3 separate regions of the Homo sapiens genome follow, and all the other regions are linked to region 3. The links come from fine-mapping of genetic effects on gene expression. A gene starts in region 3. Each other region holds a variant in brackets. All regions are shown on one strand. Distances are between the middles of the regions.

Evidence for each region. PIP is the estimated chance that this variant, and not a neighbour inherited with it, causes the effect.
Region 1: its variant is the best candidate, but not a certain one, in a credible set for the expression of CTSH in fibroblasts (GTEx, PIP 0.88).
Region 2: its variant is the best candidate, but not a certain one, in a credible set for the expression of CTSH in skeletal muscle (GTEx, PIP 0.51).

The regions. Positions count from the first base shown.
Region 1 is chr15:78,915,992-78,920,230 of GRCh38, forward strand. No RefSeq gene overlaps it. Among named protein-coding and RNA genes, the nearest start is that of CTSH, 27 kb to the right of the region's middle. The variant C/T (reference allele first, on the strand shown) is at 1,806.
Region 2 is chr15:78,908,385-78,912,623 of GRCh38, forward strand. No RefSeq gene overlaps it. Among named protein-coding and RNA genes, the nearest start is that of CTSH, 35 kb to the right of the region's middle. The variant T/C (reference allele first, on the strand shown) is at 2,551.
Region 3 is chr15:78,942,544-78,946,782 of GRCh38, forward strand. CTSH (cathepsin H) reads right to left here and starts at 2,503. Exons shown (of 12, transcript NM_004390.5): 1 at 2,348-2,503. The coding sequence starts at 2,438. RefSeq lists enhancers at 706-755, 1,186-1,235, 1,696-2,234, 2,235-2,773 and silencers at 1,624-1,918, 2,356-2,705.

The sequences.
Region 1 (4,239 bases), 27 kb before region 3:
GCCAAGCGCGGTGGCTCAATGCCTGTGATCCCAGCACTTTGGGAGGCTGAGGCGGTATGATCGCTTGAGTCCAGGAGCTTGAGACCAGCCTGGGCAACATAGTGAAACCCCATCTCTACAAAAATTAAAAAACTTTTAAAAATCACGAAGAAAATATGATTATATCAATTTGTAGACAATGAAATGGAGGCTCAGAGAGGGTAACTAACACCCCCACTACCGCCAAGGTCACACAGAAAATTCAAGGGAGAACTGAGATTGGAATCCAGGTGTGTCTGCTTCCAAAAAGTTGTGTTCCATTAGCATTCTTTCCACTGGATATTCTGGCAGGAGCTGGGCTTCCTGTCACGGACACTATGGTTTTGGGAGGAGATGCTTAGTTCACTCACACTAATAATGACCATGGTAGGGACATGCCCTGAGCCCCCACAATTAACATGTCTTGAAATTTTAAAGTCTTGAGTACACAGGCTTCTGCTTTTTTTCGTTTTCTTTTTTTTATTTTTATTTTATTTTATTTTTTTTTGAGATGGAGTCTTGCTCTGTCCCCAGGCTGGAGTGCAGTGGCGTGATCTCGGCTCACTGCAAACTCCGCCTCCCGGGTTCCTGCCATTCTCCTGCCTCAGCCTCCGGAGTAGCTGGGACTACAGGCGCCTGCCACCGTGCCCGGCTAATTTTTTTGTATTTTTTAGTAGAGATGGGGTTTCACCGTGTTAGGATGGTCTCGATCTCCTGACCTTGTGATCCACCCACCTCGGCCTCCCAAAGTGCTGGGATTACAGGCGTGAGCCACCTTGCCTGGCCTTTTTTTTTTTCTTTCTTTTCTTTTCTTTTTTTTGAGACAGTATTGCTCTTCACTCAGGCTGAAGTGCAATGATGCAATCATGGCTCACTGGAGCCTTGACCTCCTGGGCTCAAGTGATCCTCCCACCTCTCAGTCTCCTGAGTAGCTGGGACTACAGGCTCTGCTATCATGCCCGGCTAATTTTTTGTTTGTTTAGTATTTTTTTGTAGAGATGAAGTTTTGCCATGTTGCCCAGGACGGTCTTCAACTCCTGGCCTCAAGAACTTCTCCTGTCTTGGCCTCCAAAAGTGCTGTGATTACAGGTGTGAGCCCACTGTGCCTGGCTCATATAGACAGAATTACACAATGTGTAGTCTTTTGCGTCTGGCTTCTTTCACTTGGCCTGATGTTTCCAACGTTCATCCATGGTGTAGTGTGTGTCAGCACTTCCTTCTTAGGCTGGATGTTTCTTTGTATGGATGTATCATATTTTATCTGTCAGTTGACAGACATCTGGGTTGTTTCCCCATTTTGGCAATTATATATAATGTTGTTAGGAATATTCATGTACAAGTTTCTGTGTGTACATGTTTTCAATTCTCTTAGCAGTGGAATTACTGGGTTCATATAGTAATACTTTTTTTTTTTTTTTTTTTTTTTTTTACCCAGGCTGGAGTGCAGTGGCACAATCTTGGCTCACTGCAGCCTCCACCTCCCGGGTTCAAGCAGTTCTCCTGCCTCAGCCTCTGGAGCAGCTGGGATTACAGGTGCACACCACCACGGCTAGCTAATTTTTGTATTTTTAGTAGAGATGGTAAATAACTTTTGTATTTTTAGTAGAGATGGTATATAATTCTTTTTATATATTGCCGGATTTGGTCTGCTAGTATTTTATTGAGGATTTTCACATCTGTATTGATAAGGAACATTGCTCTGTAGTTTTCTTTTCTTGTGATGTCTTTGTTTTTAACCTTTGGACTTTAACTGTTTTTTGTTTTTTTAAAACTCTGCTATCTTTTCC[C/T]TAAGTGCAGGAGCACCTTAGTGTTAAAGACATAGTCCATGGGCCTGAGATTGCTAGAGGTCCGCACGGGGCCTGTCATGGAGTAGGGGCAGGGGTGATGACTGAGATCAATTAGGCAGTACCTGCTGTGTACCAGGCTCTGTAGCATCCTTAGGGTTCAAGTGCATTTGAAATTTACTTATCTCAGTTGGATGTAGCCATGTCTGCCGATCTCTTTAAATCCAAACAGCACCAAGGCACAGGCCATGCTGCTTGTTTCACAACAGTCCTGCCAACACTGGATGTTATAAACATCCTGTGTGCTCCCTGGTGCCTGGCACAGGAGAGGACTGCACACAGTGGATACTCTGCAGGTGTTTGGTAAATGGCTGAAAAGGAGGGAATTGGCCCCTGAAAGTCCCCCCCCCGCCCCCTCCCCCTCCCCCTCCCCCTCTTTTTTTTGAGATGGAGTCTCGCTCTCTTGCCAGGCTGGAGTGCAGTGGCACGATCTCGGCTCACTGCAACCTCTGCCTCCCGGGTTCAAGCGATTCTCCTGCCTCAGCCTCCCAAGTAGCTGGGACTACAGGTGCGTGCCACCACGCCAAGGTAATTTTTTTGTGTTTTTAGTAGAGACAGGGTTTCACCATGCTGGTCTCGAACTCCTGACCTCAGGTGATCTGCCCACCTTGGCCTCCCAAAGTGCTGGGATTATAAGCCGTGAGCCACCACACCAGGCCTGCAGGCCTTTTTATAATAAAAGACTCTCATCATTGTCTGGGTTTGAGACATTCGGGGCTCTTATGGAAAGGAGAACTCTGCTTCAAAGTCTCAGGTCTGTGTTCCAGCCCAAGCCCACAATCCCTGCGGAGCACCTAAATCCCTCAGGGGAGGCTAATTTTGAAAACAGTTATTTGATTTTTGTGGTAATTTGAATTTCTTTGGAACCTCACCCAGGACCCTCCCTTTAAATGAGTATTTAATTGGAATGTGGTTAATAATGTTCTATATTGGATCATTAATTGTGACATTTGTATCAAACTACTACATTCATCGCAGAGAGATCTGGGTGTGGGTGTGCAAGAATTCTCCTCTGTCTCCACAGTCATTCTATATCTAAACCCGTTAGAAAAGAAAATGTTCACTTTAAAAACAATATAGAGCTGGGTGAGGATTTAGGTTACATTGTTTTTCCAACCTACTGTTCAATTTCTAGCACTATTTTTTTTTTGAGACGGAGTCTCGCTCTGTCACCCAGGTTGGAGTGCAGGGGTGCGATCTCCACTCACTGCAACCTCTGCCTGCCGGGTTCAAGTGATTCTCCTGCCTCAGCCTCTCGAGTAGCTGGGATTATAGGCATCCGCCACCATGCCCGGCTAATTTTTGTATTTCTAGTAGAGACAGGATTTCACTATGTTGGCCAGGCTGGTCTTGAACTCCTGACCTCGTGATCCATCTGCCTTAGCCTCCCAAAGTGCTGGGATTACAGGCGTGAGCCACCGCACCCAGCTTCTAGCACCTTTAATTGAATGGTGAAAATGGACTCGTCTGTGACGGATGTATCGAATTCTTACTTCCTAGACCTGAGTGAGTAATCTATTCTTAATTGGCACACTGTTTTAAGGGTTAACATTTTGTAAATTTTAATATGTGAAAAAAATCCACCCTCATTGCTCATTTATAAAACTACCTTGGCCTTTTTTCCCCCAGATAAAAAGGATAACAGAATTTTATTGGGATTTTAGTTGGAAATATACCATCTGTACTTTTATTTCTGGCAATAATCAACTTATTTATGCTAATCTTTCCATTCAAGAATATGGTGTGCCTCGGCCGGGCATGGTGGCTCATGCATGTCATCCCAGCACCTTGGGAGGTCGAGGCAGGTGGATCATGAGGTCAGGAGTTTGAGACCAATCTGCCAACATAGTGAAACCTCGTCTCTACTAAAAATACAAAACACTAGCCAGGTGTGGTGGTGGGCACCTGTAATCCCAGCTACTCGGGTGGCTGAGGCAGGAGAATCACGTGAACCCGGGAGGCGGAGGTTGCAGTGAGCCAAGATCATGCCATTGCACTCCAGCCCGGGCAACAGTGTGAGACTCTGTCTCAACAACAACAACAAAAGAATATGGTGGCTCTCCATTTATCTAAGTCTTCCTTTATAGTGTTATTAATTTAGTAATTTTCTTCATATAAGACTTTTTGGTGGTTATTCCTAGCTGCTGGTTTTGTTGCAATAGTAAAGTTGCAATAGTAACAAAAAATAGTGTATTTTTTCTGAGTTTTTGATTTTTTTTTCTGGTATCCAGCCACTTTCAGAACTCTTTCATTAGTTCTAAGTTTTGTTGATTCTCCTGAATGTTTTTAGCCACATTATCATGCTGTCTGCAAATATTAATTGGGTTTATTTATCACAGCAGCCAGATCTTCCAGATAGATGTAAGCAAGAATGGTA
Region 2 (4,239 bases), 34 kb before region 3:
AGCGGGGATTACAGGTGTGTGCCACCATAACCCAGCTAATTTTTTTGTATTTTTAGTAGAGACGGGGTTTCACCATGTTGGCCAGGCTGGTCTTGAACTCCTGACCTCAAGTGATCCGCCTGCCTTCGCCTCCCAAAGTGCTGGGATTACCATTTTATTTTAAAACACAATTGTGGTTATATTGTTTTGATTTTTTTGAAAAGCTTTACATGAGATTTGATTTCTGGCTGTCTTTTGCTGCGCTAACAAACTGTCCCAGAACTTTATAGCTTAAAACAACCATTTTGTTTTGCTCATACCTTTCTGAATCATGAATTCAGGATAGGCTTGGTTGGGCAGTTCATCTTTGATCCATTTGGCGTTAGCTGCCGTGGCTGAAATTGTGGAGGATCTGCTTCCAAGATGGCTTCTTCACTCATGTATCTCGTACCTCTGTGTTCCTTGGCCCCTCTTTCCTCGACACAGCATCTCAACCACTGAGGGCTTCTCTGCATGGTTTGCACATCTCATACTGTGACTTGCCAGCCTCAGGCTGGTATCTCAGGACTCCAAAATTACATGGTATCTCAGGACTCCAATAGTGAGGGTTCAAAGAGATAAGAAATGGAAGCTGCCAGGCTAGTTAAGGGCTGTGGTTGAAAGTACTGGTTTTTTTTTTTTTTTTTTTTTGGGACAGAGTCTCACTCTGTCGCCCAGGCTGGAGTGCAGTGGTGCAATCTCGGCTCACTGCAAGCTCTGCCTCCTGGGTTCACACCATTCTCCTGCCTCAGCCTCCTGAGTAGCTGGCACTACAGGTGCAAGCCACCATGCAGTAGTCTTTACACTTATTTATTTCTTGACATTTAGAATATTGGAAACAATTAAGAAAATCAGAATTGAAAATGAGGAAGAAGAAATGTGAGATGAATGGTTGGTTTCAGAAGAACAGAAGCATGTGCGTTTGTGATGCAGCCTTGGGGGAGAGAGAGAAGGGCAGCTGAGCCTGGGATATGCTTCCAGTCCTGGGGAGGGGTTTGGGTGGTTGCTGGTGGTGTGTCTAGGGGTGATTAAGTTTAGACAAACCTCTGAGTGTGTGCGTGTTTGTGTGTTTGTGTGTGAAGAGGGAAGTTTGGTATGTCCTTGACCTGGTGCTCTGTGGCATAAAGTTACCATGGGCAGAGCTAATGGCAGATTGTCCTGGGCCTAGGAATGGTCTCAGCATTGCAAAGCTCCCTGGTGAACCTGAGCAATAAAGGTAGCACGTTTCCTCTATGCTTGTGACATATGTGAGGGCTACATGGTTTCCTTCAGGAACTAAGTCAACCTGCCCTTTCTGACCCCAGAGCCGGAGACACAAGGACTCACTCTGGGTGGACTGATCTGGGACCCTGGAGGTTCCTGGTACAACCTGTGTCCACTTGGGACACATTCTTGCACTTTTACTTTTCCAGAGGATTGTGCAAGCCTTTACTTCCATAGGCAGAGAATCTCATCCTTCCCCCTTGATCACCCTTCTCTTCATTATCCAAGAATTCCAGTCTTTCTGAAGCCATACTGGGAGACCAGAAAATTAGATGTGCGCATTATGTTACCATAGTGGCCATAAGGTGTCGCTGTTGTAAGGGTTTCCCCACAATCCATGGGCTCAGCCCATTCCGCCCACCTTCACAGGGCCGAGGTGGCATCCTACTCCAGTGCCCTAAAGCTGCTCCTCTCTTGGCCACCTCATGTTCAGCCATCATCCCTCACAGTAGGACACCCACCAGAGTTTCCAATCCTGCAGCAGCTTCACTCAGCCTACCCACTGTGCGAACCTGGCCTCTGTGAAATTTTAGATCCTGAACTGGGGCCAGCCTCCTCTCCTCCCCTCCCTTCTGAGGGAGTCCCCTTAAGATCTTTTCCTGCCGTGAGCCTGCTTCAGCGCATCCCAGACCACCCGAATGGCTGTCCCCAATTTCATCTCTGGGTTCCTGTGCAAATTGGTCCACCTTGCACCCTGGAATCCCGAGAGAGATCGTCTTTGCTGAACTACAAACAGCAAACCGGAGATCTTGTGTATAGCATTCCCCTAGAACAACACACACTGACTTTACATTCACATAACCACGGGAAGTTGGTCACATGATTTTTCCCATAATAATGAAAATCTGTTCTCTGTCTCTAGCCTAGACTTACTCTATCACTCTACATTTGCATAATTCCCTTAAAATGTTTTAAAAATATGCCAAGAACTATTTTTTAAAAAGCATCCCATAATATTACCTTTCAGCTACTCCCTTGTATCGGCTAGGCTCCCTGAGAAAGAACACAGTCTACTGGGTACTGTGAGGGGAGCTTGATAAAGGACTTGTTTACCAAGGTGGACAGGAGGAGGGAACCCACCAGGCCTTAGATGGGGCAGTGCCGTAGATGGAGTTACGTAGATGGAGCTCAGTTACCACCCTGGGCCTGGCGGGCAGGGCCAGGTCTCCTCACAGCATAGTCATTTTGAATCACTTTCAGACTTTTTAAGAATCCTAAGGACTCTGCATCCTCTTTGGAGAGGCAGCAGAGAGGGAGGCTGAGAACAGA[T/C]ACTCTGGAGCTGGAGGGCTCGGGTATAAACCCTGATTCTGCCACTAAGCAATTTTGTGGTTTGGGGCAAGTTGCTTAACCAATCTGTGCCTCGGCTTCCTCATGTGAAAGTGGGGATCATGATAGTATCTACCTCACAGGGTTGCTGTGGGGAGTTAGTGTGCTGTATATTTCTTAGTGCAGTGCCTGGCCAATAAAAAGTGTCTGTTAAACCAAGAAAACACCAGTGTTTGAGCTGAGCTGATTAACCTGCTTCACTCGCAAGAAGGAAGGGCTTCTCTCTTGCCCTTTGATAGAAGTCAAAAGACCAGCATCTCTGTAGGCTCTCAGAGTCCCTCAGGAGCATAGGGGAAATTGCTCTGTCAGTTTTCTTTTTTGAGACGGAGTCTCACTCTGTCACCCAGGCTGGAGTGCAGTGGTGCAATCTCAGCTCACTGCAACCTCCGCCTCCCTGGTTCAAGCAATTCTCTCGTCTCAGCCTCCTGAGTAGCTGGGATTACTGGTACCCGTCATCATGCCTGGCTAATTTTTGTATTTTTGTAGAGATGGGGTTTCACCATGTTGTTCAGGCTGGTCTTGAACTCCTGACCTTGTGATCTGCCCACCTCGGCCTCGCAAAGTGCTGGGATTACAGGCGTGAGTCACCGTACCTGGCCTACTCTGTCAGTTTTACCATCTTCTCCTTAGGTTTCTGGCGCAGGGGCTTTGGGCTTGGCAGGCCAGGAGTGCCCTTGGGCGGGGTCACCACAAGGGCTGCAGCCCTGATTCAGTATTCTTAACCAGCTGGTGGGATGCTTCCTCCTCTGTCCCCCATGGTTGCTGTTTCCCAGGAGGCCCTGTGGTCCTTCATGCAAGTTGCCTTTGGCCCCGCTCTCCAAGTCAGTCCAGGCTAATACAGCCTCATGCTGAAACTCTTGTGTTTACCTAAACTCTGAGTGCTGTTTGGATGCTAGGAACAATTACTAAAGAAAATGTATATATACACAGTGGAATGCTATACAACCTTTAAAAAGGAAATCCTGCCATTGTGATAACAGGGATGAACCTGAAGGATTTTATGCTAAGTGAAATAAGCCAGACACAGAAAACAAGTACCGCATGATCTTCACTTATACGTGGAATTTTAAAAAGTTGAACTCATAGAAGCAGAGAGTAGAATGTTGATTAGCAGAGGTCGGAGGGGGAGATATAGGGAAAGGGAGATATTGGTCAAAGATGTTGGTTTCAGACATTTTAGAGATCTGTTGCACAGTATGGTGACCATACATTTCAAAATAGCCAGAAGACTAGATTTTAAACATTTTCACCACAAAAAAGGGTAAGTAGGTGAGGTGTTGGATATGTAAGTTTGATTAATCTTTCTGCAATGCGTACATATATCGAAACATCACATTGTACCCCATAAACATGTATAATGATTGTCTGTTTAAAAAAGTTTATATTTCATCCTGAGTTCAAAACCCGTAACTGAATTAAGTGACTGCTGGTGGGAACCAGGTAAACCTTCCATTCAGCTTAACTTTTGAGATGAGCTTGGCATTTCTTGATGTTGCTAGGGGAAAAACCTCAGGAGTTGTGTTGTAACAGGAAGTTAAGAGTAAGATTGCTGATTTCATTCATTAGTTCAGTGAGTTTCTGTAATGAAGAATATATGTGTACCCATAAGAGTCAATATGCATGTTTACTTTG
Region 3 (4,239 bases):
TTGATATCCCCATGAAGTCCTCTCCTCTTCAATTCAGTTTCCTTGAGGAATTGAGAATGCCAGATATGAACGATTTATTACCGTTTTGTCTTTTTGTTTGCTGTCCCTATTGTTTTTATACCCATGGGTTCAGGTTCAGATTGAATGAGAGGAAAGAGGTTCCCCCTTGCCTTCAGGGGCTCTCTCCCAGTTTTAGCAAAGAGGACACTTGGAAATAAAAGGTCTGTAAATGGATTTCCAGAACACTCTCTGCCGGCATCACTTGAAATATCTTCCTGTTTCCCCAAGGATCCATACCTCCAGTGTGAAGATCACTACCACACAGCATTTAGATCTCCGTTTTTGGGTCTCGAACCTGTTCCAGAGACCAATCTATGGCCGTTTTCCCTGGGGAAAATGCACATTTCCTCAACATGGCTCCCTTTAGGGTTTCAGGGGATTCCAGATCTTGATTAAGGGCCCTGCTGCAGCTGAGGGCTTTAGAGGAAGACAGACCTCAACTCAGGACAAGAGTTGGAGGCAGGGTTTGAGTTTAGGACAATTGACTACCAGTTTGCCTCTGGAGAGATTATTCTGGGGCCAGAATAATCTGCTGGTGAACCGTGCCTTACCCTAAAATAGATCCATTCCAATCTAGTCAGGACTTTAAAAGTGCCATAATACCTTGCCTGGATTTACAGCAGGTTTCAGGAAAGTACAGTATTCCCCTGTTTGTTTGTTTGTTTGTTTTAGATGGAGTCTTACTCTGTCACCCAGGCTGGAGTGATCGCCACCTCTCAGTTTCAAGCGATTCTCCTGCCCCAGCCTCCTGAGTACCTGGGATTACAGGCACCTGGCTACCACACCCAGCTAATTTTTGTATTTTTAGTAGAGACAGGGTTTCACCATGTTGGCCAGGCTGCTCTCGAACTCCTGACCTAAAGTGATCCGACTGCCTCGGTCTCCCAAATTGCTGAGATTACAGGTGTGAGCCACCGCAGCCGGTCCCTGACTCCTGTTTTAGTACAGCTCCTGGGCTACAAACGGTTTCTTACAATTTTAAATGGTTAGAAGAAACATATTTCGTAGCACCCAAAAATCCCTTGAAACTGAAATTTCAGTGGCCATAAAAATCATTTATTAGAACCCAGTTACACTGACTCACTTACATACAATCTATGGTTGCTATCACACTACCATGGCAGAGTTAGTAGTTGCTACAGAGACCACCATAAAGCCTAAGTTATTTACCGTCTGGTCTTTCACAGAAAAAGTTTGCCAAGCCCTGCTCTGGAATTCAGACAGCCTCTCAGCGCCAGCCTTCTCCAGGCAGCCCTCGCTTGCGGCAGCTAGGTTTTCCTTAGGCGGGAACTGACCTGGAGCTGGGCGCCCACTGAGGTTTGCAAGGCTGGGGAGCTTTTTAAATAAATAGGTGGGAAGGAATGAGGCAACCCTCTGGCCCAGATTCAGCCTCAGTGATCTCTGTCCCATCCCCTGAGCCTCTAGCTGGGGGAAAGCCCTGTCCCGTTCCTCCAGAGCTCAGGGCACCCCCCCTCCCTAGGTTCTTGGCTCCTTGGGTTGTTTCTTGGCTACTTTTCTCGGTGAAGGGGGCAGGTGGTCTTTAAGTTCAGAGCCTGTGGGCTGAGGCTGGGACCAGGGACAGTAGGAAAGGAGGGAGGCAGTAGGGAAGAGCAGGCTCCTTGCCTTCAGCCAGGGGAGGTGCCTGAGCCCGGGCAGTAGACAGGATGCAAGGGCAGCACGAAGCTGGACCAGTCGCAGCCAATCTGGCCAACAAGAGGAGTCCTGGGGCTCCACCTGACGCCATGGGCCCTGGGGTGCTGTTAAAAGCGCTGTTGGTCTGAGTGCTTTCCCTGGTGCCGTTGCACAGGGATTCACTGTTCCAAACAGCCCGTCCAACCTACTCTACAGATGGGACTCCCAAGACACTACGGGGATCCCCTGTGTGCCAAGTCCCGGGGGAAGCTGCTAGAGAAGGCTGGGACGTCCTTGCTCACCTCTGGCAGGGACAGATCAGAGTCCTCTGTGTGACACTCTGTGTCCCCAGTTGAGGAAGGCGGAAGGAGCTGCGGGCTCCTTTGGTATTCTAGGCTGGAGAGCCACCTGGCTAGGTGGGACCCTGGACACTCAGCCCATCTGCTCCTCTGGTCCTACAAGCCGCCCACCCTCCGAGAACCCCCGCCTATAATGCAGTTTACCCCTCCCCGTGCCAGCACGCAGAGTTCCTGGCCTCTCACCGGGGAAAGCTCTGCCCCGTTCCTCCGGAGCCCAGTGCGCCCCTGGCCAAGTTCTCCCAGCGTCCACTCTAGGGCCTGCTAGCACCCTCTCGGGCGGCGCGCCCTCTGCGTACCTAAGGAGTTCACGCACAGTTCGGCGGCACCGCAGACGGGGACTCCCAGGAGCCAGGCCCCGGCGCAGAGCAGCGGCAGCGTGGCCCACATCGCAGCGCTGGCGGCTTGGCTCTTGCGCTCAGGGTCCGCGGAGGTGGCGGCCCAGAGCGTCAACTGGGAGCGCGGGGGGGGAGCGGCACGAGCGTGGAGGAGCGGCGGGAGCGCGAAGGGGCGGAGCGAGCGCGGGGCGGAGCGAGCGCGGGGCGGGGTGGGCGGTACTCCCCCGAGGCCGGGCTCGCGGGAGGGGGCGGCGCCGACTAACTCGCCAGCTCTAGTTCACCTGTCGGCCGGCCGCGTCGCTCCCTTATCTCCTCTGGGAGGAAGGGCTTATCTGGGTATCAGGCCTGGCTGAGTCCTGGATCTGCCTGGACTGGCTGGCACCGCGCGGGGAGGTCTCAGCCTGGCCTCTCCCTCTCCCAGCCTGTCGCCATCCCCACGTCCCCCATCTCCCTGCGTGTCCCCACCTCGCACCCCCCCATCTCCCTGCCTATCCCCAACTCGCACCCCTCATGTCCCTTCCTGTCCCCACCTCACACCATGTCCCTGCCTGTCTTCACCTTGCACCCTCCATCTCCCTGCCTGTCCCCACCTCGCTCCCCCTATGTCCCTGCCTGTCTCCACCTCACACCCCCATCTCCCTGAATGTGCCCACCTCCCACCCCCTATGTCCCTGCCTGTCCCCACCTCCCACCCCCATGTCCCTGCCTGTCCCCACCTCGCACCCCCATGTCCCTGCTTATCCCCACCTCGCACCCCCCCATCTCCCTGCCTGTCCCCAACTCACACCCCCCATCTCCCTGCCTGTCCCCACCTCAGACTCCCCATGTCCCTGCCTGTCTCCACCTCACACCCTTATGTCCCTGCCTGTCCCCACCTCGCACGCCCCACGTCCCTGCCTGTCCCCACCTCGCACTCCCCATGTCCCTGCTTGTCCCCACCTCGCACCCCCCATCTCCCTGCCTGTCCCCACCTCACACCCCCCATGTCCCTGCCTGTCTCCACCTCACAGCCTTATGTCCCTTCCTGTCCCCACCTCGCACCCCCCATCTCCCTGCCTATCCCCACCATACCCCTATGTCCCTGCCTGTCCCCACCTCACACCCCCATGTCTCTGCCTGTCCCCACCTCACACCCCCATATCCCTGCCAGTCCCCACCTCACATCCCCCCATCTTCCTGCATTTCCCCACCTCACACCCCTATGTCCCTGCCTGTCCCCGCCTTGCACCTCCCATCTTCCTGCCTGTCCCCACCTCACACCCCCTCATGTCCCTGCGTGTCTCCACCTTGCACCCCCATCTCCCTGCCTGTCCCCACCTCATACCCCCCATGTCCCTGTGTGTCTCCACCTCAGACTTTCCCCCACACTCCCCACGTCTCCCTGCCCTGGTTAACCACATTTCCCTGGCTTCCCTTTTGCTTGGAGTGGACTTACAACTGAAGAAGCTAGACGACCTCCTTGTGAATTGTTTTGCCCCCTCAACAGACATTTTAGTCTTTCTGCTGAGGAAGCTACATTAAGAGCTGTAGGGCCATTCTCTGTAGTTTGCAAAGCTAAAGAAGATGGTATGTAAGGGTCTGGGTGTGAGACAGACAGAAGAACGTGCGTTCCAGGCTGAGGAGGCCGGTGCTGTCACTGCTTTGGGTGAGGAGAGGGTGATTCAGACCAGCCTGTGCCGTAGCCTCAAATGCCCAGTGATGCCCTGTTCTTCACTTACATCATCACCTTGCAAAGTGGCATGTTGTTGACCCCCCATTTTACAGATGAGGAAACTGAGGCCACAAGAGTAGATGGTAACTTTCCCAGTCTGTGCGCAGAGAGTGTCTGAACCCAGCCTTGACCTACTGCAGTG